Regions from separate parts of the Homo sapiens genome. Here region 2 is linked to region 1. A link means that fine-mapping ties the variant in region 1 to the expression of a gene that starts in the linked region. Tissue or cell type: tibial artery. Region 1 holds a variant in brackets; the other region holds the start of a gene. All regions are shown on one strand. Distances are from middle to middle.

Region 1 (4,159 bases):
TAGTTCTGGGTGGAGGTGGGTGCGATGGGCACAAATCCATGTAGCTGGTGGTGGCCTCGCATCAGGAAGGGCAGGGCATAGTGGCCACTCAGCGAGGGGCTCACCAACACGGCATTCTGTACCTCCAGGTCCCGCAGCGCCCGCTCCAGCAGCGCTGCCCGCCCTGCCTCTGTGCTTGCCTCCTTTGAAGGTGCCGAGTTCCCAAAACCTAGGAACAGCAGCAGGTACCAGCTGAGGGGCACTGGGAAGGGGCACAGGACTTCCTGCCCACCACAGTGGGGGAAAAAGTTGGGGACCACTGGCACTGGCACACACTACCTAAAACTGCCCAGAAGCTATTTTCTGGTAATGTAATATGCCTGTTAGAAAAGCATATCTTGGCCGAGAGTGGTGGCTCACGCCTGTAATCCCAGCACTTTGGGAGGCCGAGGCGGGCAGATCACGAGGTTAGGAGATCGAGACCATCCTGGCTAACACGGTGAAACTCCGTCTCTACTAAAAATACAAAAAATTAGCCAGGCGAGGTGGCGGGCACCTGTAGTCCCAGCTACGCAGGAGGCTGAGGCAGGAGAATGGCATGAACCCCGGGGGGCGGAGCCTGCAGTGAGCCGAGATCATGCCACTGCACTCTAGCCTGGGCGACTGCGAGACTCTGTCTAAAAAAAAAATAAAATAAAATAAAAAATAAATAATACCCAGTGTTGGGGGAGACATGGGGAAATGGGCACTTTCATACATGACAGATGGGAAGATAAATCCATATAGTGTTTTTGGAGGGTGAGATAGTAGTTATCTAAATTTAAAAATGCATGTCCTGGCAGCTGGGCGCGGTGGCTCATGCCTGTAATCCCAGCACTTTGGGAGGCCGAGGTGGCGGATCATGAGGTCAGGAGTTTGAGACCAGCCTGACCAACATGGTGAAACCCTGTCTCTACTAAAAATACAAAAATTAGCCAGGCATGGTGGGGCGCACCTGTAATCCCAGCTACTCAGGAGACTGAGGCAGGAGAATCGCTTGAACCCAGAAGGCGGAGGTTGCAGTGAGCCGAGTACGAGCCACTGCACTCCAGCCAGGGTGACAGAGCGAGGCTCTGTCTCAAAAAAAAAAAAAACAAAAAACAAAAAAAGAAACAAACAAAAAAAAAACAAAACACAACACATCCTTTGGCCCATCAATTGTCCTCAGTAGCTACCCTAGAGAAATTATTGCTCACATGCTCAAAGAAGCATGCCCAAGGATGCTTTAGCTACTATATTGCTTGAGCACTCCGCCAGTAGAGGAATGGCTGAATAAAGCCTGTCCATCCCTCCTATGGGACACACTGCAGGGTTGACAACAAAGAGGGAGGTTTGTAGGGACCGGCATGATCCTTGAGACATGATGTAGGGGGAGAAAACCAAGCTACAGATGGATGTGCTAAGCAGACAGGATACCAATCATGTTTACAGCCCCCACTAGACAATCCTCTACATCGTCTGCATCTTTACATGTGGGAATACCCAGAACAGCGTGTGGCATCCCCTAAACTTCTTAGAGAGGGAGAGAAATGCGGCACCAGTCTCTCAGAGCTTTGCTATTTTTTAGTATTTTTTAATCCTCTATGACTCGACATTTTTTCATTTTTTTAATGACAAGAATGATAGCATAAATCATTTGTGTACTTAAAAACACAAAACCTATATGGTTTGCCATAGAAAGTACACTGCTTGGCCGGGCGCAGTGGCTCACACCTGTAATCCCAGCACTTGGGGAGGCCGAGGCAGGCGAATCACCTGAGGTCGGGAGTTCAGGACCAGCCTGGCCAGCATGGTGAAACCCTATCTCCACTAAAAATACAAAAATTAGCCAGGCGTGGTGGCAGTCACCTGTAATCTCAGCTACTGGGGAAGCGGAGGCAGGAGAATTGCTTGAACCCGGGAGGCGGAGGTTGCAGTGAGCCGAGATTGTGCCATTGTACTCTAGCCTGGGTGACAGAGCGAGACTCTGTTTCAAAAAATATATATAAATAAAATAAAAAAAAAGAAAGTATACTGCTTGTGAAGAGTTTTTATTTGCTCCATGACCTAGAATTCACACTGTAGTTTTCATAGTAGAAAATGAAAACACAGACTTTTTCATGGTGCCACCTTATGTTGTGACCTGCCACGGCCTGTCCAGAC[C/A]CTAGGGTCCAGTTGCCTCCCAGCCACACTTAAGGCTTCCCTAGACAAAGGGGTGGGGGTGCTCACCTGGAAGGTCAAGGGCCACGGCCCGGTAGCCCCTCTGTGACAGTAGCTGCAGTGTGCCCAGCTGCTCCCACGTGTGAGAGTTAAAGGCCTTTCCATGAAGCAGCACCACCTCCACCCTGCAGGCACACAGGGGAATGTGTTTGCTGGGAACCTGGTGTAGCCCACCTTTCTTTATTCCTAGGCTTCTCCCATTGCCCTCCCAGGACCTGAGCACCCTGAGTATAATGGGGGTCCCACACAGGGACTCCCCTTGAGCCTAGTCCCTCCACTAGACCCTTGGAGCAGCACCTACCTGTGTGCCTGGTTGAGTGGGAGCACCTCGCGGTAAAAGATGGGCGAGTTGCCAGGGGTGAGACCAGCCAGGACTGTGACATTGGGGTCTCCCCAGAGGCAGGAAGTCTGCTCAGGGGGGCCTGGCAGCCCCACATACAGTAGGAGCATGAGCAGCAGACTCAGGCCCAGCAGGGCTACCTGGGACCGGCTCATGGAGGTCTGTACCACAGTCTGGAGAGGGAGAGGAGAGGGAAAAGAGGCTGGAACTGAGTCCCTACAAGGACCCTGGATCCCATCCCAAAACCCCACCCAGAGTCCCCAGCAGAGGAAGAGCTCCAGCCCTTGCCCTTTCCCTTGCTCTGGGCAAAGTTCTGGGAGTTCACACTCAACTACTCCACATGCCAGGGCAAGCGCTCAGATACCTCACAGTGTGAGGAGGTGCATCTGAGGTGTTCTCTGGCACACAGCATGCTCAGTGACCGCCACCATCATGGCATCAGCTGAAACCACTTCCGTTCATCAAGCGCTTATGACAGCAGGCCCTGAGTGTGGCACTTCACATACAAGGTTCTTTTCCACCAAGAATGCTGGGGAGCAGACGTGATTATAGGTCTCTTATAGGTGAGGAAATGGAGGCTCAGAGAGGTACATTCTCTTGCCCAAAGTGCCAAGTAGCAAGTGGGGGAATTGGGGTTTGAACCTAGGAATGGGCTTCTAACTACCAGGCCACACTCGGTTTGCCAAGGAGGAACCCGTGGAGCTGGGAGATGATGGATGAACTGGAGCCTTGCAGGTGGAAAAAGTGATGAGGGCTATCAAAGGAGAAAGACTGCGCGCAAAGGGACCTCCCACTTAAGGGCATGTTTGGAAATGGTTCTTTTAATCTCACTGCATTTAATACTGCTAAAATCAGAACGCGTTTTACAATCGCATTATAACTAAGGTCTAACCCAGCTGTTATGAAGAGGCTCACAGAGAATGTCTTGTAATAGAGGAAAATGCTGAGGAGTGAGGGGCTGCAGGGCCAGGGAGGAGCATGGTACACCCAGAAATGAAAAGCACAGTGTAGAGGTTGGAGAGATGAATGCCGCCTGCTACTCCCCATCCTACACACAGACAGCTTCTGGCCAAATGACTGCTTCGTGGACTCCTCCAATCTGGGGTCTCTGCCACCCCAGAGGACAGCCCTTAGGACCCAGGACTCAAACAGGACAGGCCTTTGAGACTGCCACTTCCTGACCTTGTGTCTTCAGTTTGTCAGTAAAATGGGATAACCTCGTGGCTGCCCTCCTAAGCTTCCTGTGAGATTTAGATAATACCGTGGACTGGATCAGGGCTGTCCCTGTCATTTCTTGGGCCTAGGATGAGCACGCCTGCTTCCTTCCAGGAGTCCAGCAAACACATCTTTATTTTATTTTTATTTTTCTGAGACGGAGTCTTGCTCTGTCGCCCAGGCTAGAGTGCAGTGGTACAATCTCGGCTCACTGCAACCTCCGCCTCCCGGGTTCAAGCAATTCTCCTGCCTCAGCCTCCCGAATAGTGGGATTACAGGCTCCCGCCACCGCGCCCGGCTAATTTTTGTATTTTTTAGTAGAGACAGGGTTTCACCATGTTGGCCAGGCTGTTCTCGAACTGCTGGCCTCGTGTTTCACCCGCCTCG
Region 2 (4,159 bases), 37 kb after region 1:
TCACTGCTCTTCCCTAGGGGATGCGGTGTGAGAGGACATGGCTAAACCCTGACATGGAGGTATGGGGGGTGCTGGGGGGGACACAGCTGGGCCCTGGATGGGGGAATCTGAGAGGGACATGGCTCTGCCCTGAGGGGACATGGGCAAGCGCCCAGGAGACTGATGTAGTCACAGCCTTTCCCTAAGTGCGGTGGGAGGAGGCCTGCATGGGGTCTGAAGGGCAGATGTGACCCGCCTGGACCTGACGGGACACAGCCCTGATGTCTGGGGTCAGGAGAACATGGCCTTGCTCTGGCGCTTACCTGGGGGCCTTGGGCTCCAAAACCAGAACAGAGTCCTAAGGGGGTGGCCTGGGTGTGTTTGTGCTTATCAGTGGGCAGGCTCTGGGCCTGACTGGGGACTGCAGCTCACCTGGGTCCCGGGGTTGCTGCTGAGTGGACATGTTGGATCCACGCGGATTATGCGCTTCTCTGCGGGTATGGCCTTGAGGGCCTCAGCGGTGGAGCGGAAGGGGTCCTCCTCCCTTCCTGCCTGCCGGCCCTTCTTCTTCTCAGGGCCCTCAGTCTGTACCCAGGGCTTCGGCTTTGGAGCCATGGCTGTCCTGGGGCACAGAGAGGCCCTTAGGCCTCCATGGTCTCCTCATCCCCAACGACCCACTCTCAGTCCCCACCCCTGCCCTGGGCCAGCACAGCACCAACTTGCCCCACCCCGGGTTGGCCCTTCGGTGGCCTCCCACTGCATCCTGTGTCCACTCTGACGGCATTCCCAGCCCCAGACCACACCCAGCTCTTTGTCACTCAGAAACACCCCTTTCCCCAGTCCCAAGTGCAAGGTTAGGACTCTGTCCAGTCTGCCCACTCTGGTCAACAGGGTCTGCCTGGCTCCCTACCCTCTGCAGCTCACCTGTGTGTCCTGAGGGGTAGGGAAAGTGAAAGGAGGCTCTCTCTCTTCCACTTCGGGGCTCCTCCCCCTGTGTCAGCTAGTTCAGCCCTGGCATGGTTGCCGGGCCGAGTCACCGAGCTATGGGGGAGGGTGGGCAGAGGATCCTGGGGGCAGGATTCTTGGGGCCAGATTATCCTCCCGGAGCTTAGAACCCAGAGCTGTAGAAGCCCTTCCCAATGGACTCAAGAGTTCTGAGGAGCCAGAACTCCGGATCAGTGGCCTTGAACTGATAGAGGGCAAAGGCCAGTCCCACCAGGCCTTGCCCTGCCCTGCCGTGGGCAGGACCATAGGACACTCACCCAAGAAAAGCAGGGACATGGGAGAGGTCCTGGCTGCCACCCGGCCTGGTTGTGTGCGCCTCCCAGGGCAGTCCCAGGTCTAGCAACTCTCCATGAGCCTCAGGCGTGAATTAGGGAGAGAATTCCCAACAATCGCCAGAGGCCGGGGATGAGCTTGTGTGGGGGATTAGACATCGGCTATTTGGCCACCAGTGGGGTGAAGCAGAGGCTGGGGCAGGCCGAGTCAGGCGACCAGTCCCACGGACGGGTGGACACTCGATCTGGCATATCCAAGGCCGGGGCAGTCGCGTCCGTAGCGCTGCTCATGTGGCCGGGGCCTGCAGCACGCATCTGCCGGTCGCGCGGTGACCTTGGGCCCGGATACAGACGCAGCCTCCCTCTCCCCGGGGCTGCTTGGATCCCCGTTGGGTCTAGCGCCGGGCTGCCCATGGAGGGGAGGAGTCACGTTCCAGAACGCGAAAGGGCGCCGCGTCTCTGGCGCCCCCCAGCGGCCAAGGGGCGCAAACACAGAGAAGGCTCTTGCTCCGACTTCGAAGTGGGCCAGCAGCAGAGCGCAAGCGCCACAGCATCAGGCCGGAAGCGCCGTGGAGATGCGGGCTTCCTACTCGAGCCTGGTGCGGGAGCCTAGGAACTTCAGGAGGCGGGGCTACAAGCGTGCATCCTATGGGTGCCTGGGGGCGTGGCAGAGCCTGCAGAAGGACCCAATGGAGCAGTAGGAGGCGGGGCCCGGCGGGCGGTGGAAGCCTATCAATACGCGGGGTCTTGCCAGGCGGCTGGGGAGCTGGGAGGGTTCAGCTGCCACGTGAGTTCTGCGGCCGCTGCTACACGCCTGGTGGGCAGCATGTCGGCAACAGCGGCTGCTCGTAAGCGGGGAAAGCCGGCCTCTGGGGCCGGGGCTGGCGCGGGGGCCGGCAAGCGGCGGCGAAAGGTGAGCATGGCGCTTCTGAGGGCCGCGGTCAGCCCTGCTACTGGGACAACCGTCATCCCATCCAGGGGACCTGGGTCCCGGCCCTTCCCCAGCCCTTCGCCCTGGACCCCTGCTGGAGTCAGCTTCGTCCCTCTCTCCGCGGGCCAAATCCTAGAAAGCCGTTCGCTTAACCCGGGAACCACCGCCTTCCCCATTCCTGGGGTTCTGAGGGAACCGAGGGGGGGGGGCCCTTGGTCAATGCCAGGGTGGTCTGGACCCCTGACCAAAGAAAAGACCGTATAATTCCCAGGCCGACTCTGCGGGGGACAGGGGCAAATCCAAGGGTGGCGGCAAGATGAATGAGGAGATCTCCAGCGACTCTGAGAGCGAGAGGTGAGCTATTCTTTTCCACATAGTGGGAGGGAAAACTGAGTCCCATGGTGCACGGAAGACTGAGTGAGTCCGAACAGAACTGAGCCTAGAATCCAAGACTCTGTCCCTTGGCTCTGAGATCGTGGCTGTTTCCTTTAGTTTCTGGTCCTGCAAAGTCTTGTTTCTGCGAGGTCTCTGGGTGGGAAGGACCCTGGGCCCCAATCCGAGGCCATTGAGACCTCCTTAGGTTTTGGCAGGGACTGGACTGATTGAGAAATTGCAGGAAAACAGAACAAAGCTGTCAAGTATTTCTTGCATCCTTCTTCCCTTGCCAGTTTTCCTGCAATTTCACAATTACTGGGCTCCCCGTCTCTTAACATGCCAGGCACTGCCTTTGCTGTTGGAAGTGCAGAGATAGGCAGGCGGGTGAAGAGAGTGTGTTGTAGTGAGGTGTGTATTTTATAGTTGTGTGTTCTGGGAACAGAGGAGGGACATTTAAATAGGGTCTTGAGAGATGAAGAGGAGTCTCTCACGGAGAGGTAGGGAAGGCATTCAGTGATCAGAGGAAAGTCTGAGGTGTAAGTGTGCCAGAATGGGCAGTAGAAAAGATGAAAGGGGGCTGGGCCTGGTAACTCATGCCTCTAATCCCAGCACTTTGGGAGGCCAAGGCGGGAGGATTGCTTGATGTCAGGAGTTTGAGACCAGCCTGGGCAACATAGCGAGATCTTGTCTGTACAAAAAAAAAAAGTTAGCTGGGTATGGTGGTGTGCACCTGTAGTCCCAACTACTCAGGAGGCTAAGGTTTGGGGATCCCTTCCCAGGGAGTTGAAGCTGCAGTGAACTATGATCATGCACTGCTCTCCAGTCTGGGTGACAGCAAGATCCTGTCTCTAAAAAAAAACCACACACAAAAACAGGAGGACTGGTCATAAGTGCATGTAGATTGTAGAGGGCTTTGGATGCCTCCCTCATTTCTGCAGGTGATGGGTGTGGTTGCTTGCAGGTTTTCAAAGGGTCAGGCATGGTGTCAGGCCTGACCCTGTGGGTTGGAGGCTCTTGGACCAGAGAATCCTAGTGCCTTCCCTATGAGTTGACTTTAGAACTCGCTTCTAAAATTGAGTATGTGTTGCCTTAATTTGCTCATGGAAAGAATGTACTTTTTTTTTTTGTTTTTGAGACAGAGTCTCACTCTGTTGCCCAGGCTGGAGTGCAGTGGTGCGATCTCGGCTCACTGCAACCTCTGCTTCCCAGGTTCAAGTGATTCTCCTGCCTCAGCCACCTGAGTAGCTGGGATTATAGGCCTGCACCACCATGCCTGGCTAATTATGTATGTTTAGTAGAGATGGAGTTTCACCATGTTGGCCAGGCTGGTCTCGAACTCCTGACCTCAAGTGATCCGCCCATCTTAGCCTCCCAGAGTGCTGGGATTATAGGCGTGAGCCACCACACCCAGCCATTAATGTACTTTTCTTAATCCGAAGGTTATTGTGGGTGAGTGTGTGCCAGGCTAGTGTGGGCTAAGTGCTTTTAAATATTTTTAGAATGTTGTGTTGTGAAGTGTGTTAGATACAGAAAAGTGAATGAGATATATTTGCACTACAGAGAGTAATGGTAAAATGGTAAACCTCTGTACACTTAC

What was found. PIP is the estimated chance that this variant, and not a neighbour inherited with it, causes the effect.
Region 2: PARP3 starts here. The variant in region 1 is the best candidate, but not a certain one, in a credible set for the expression of PARP3 in tibial artery (GTEx, PIP 0.52).

What each region holds. Positions count from the first base shown.
Region 1 is chr3:51,976,442-51,980,600 of GRCh38, reverse strand. It overlaps ABHD14A-ACY1 (ABHD14A-ACY1 readthrough), which reads right to left. Exons shown (of 17, transcript NM_001316331.2): 2 at 2,519-2,730; 3 at 2,227-2,342. The coding sequence starts at 2,654. It overlaps ABHD14A (abhydrolase domain containing 14A), which reads right to left. Exons shown (of 5, transcript NM_015407.5): 2 at 2,519-2,730; 3 at 2,227-2,342; 4 at 1-208. Among named protein-coding and RNA genes, the nearest start is that of ABHD14A-ACY1, 3.5 kb to the right of the region's middle. The variant C/A (reference allele first, on the strand shown) is at 2,161.
Region 2 is chr3:51,939,791-51,943,949 of GRCh38, reverse strand. It overlaps PARP3 (poly(ADP-ribose) polymerase family member 3), which reads right to left and starts at 1,587. Exons shown (of 11, transcript NM_001003931.4): 1 at 1,242-1,587; 2 at 412-596. The coding sequence starts at 594. RRP9 (ribosomal RNA processing 9, U3 small nucleolar RNA binding protein) reads left to right here and starts at 2,046. Exons shown (of 15, transcript NM_004704.5): 1 at 2,046-2,169; 2 at 2,459-2,541. The coding sequence starts at 2,083. RefSeq lists enhancers at 1,582-1,911, 2,036-2,684.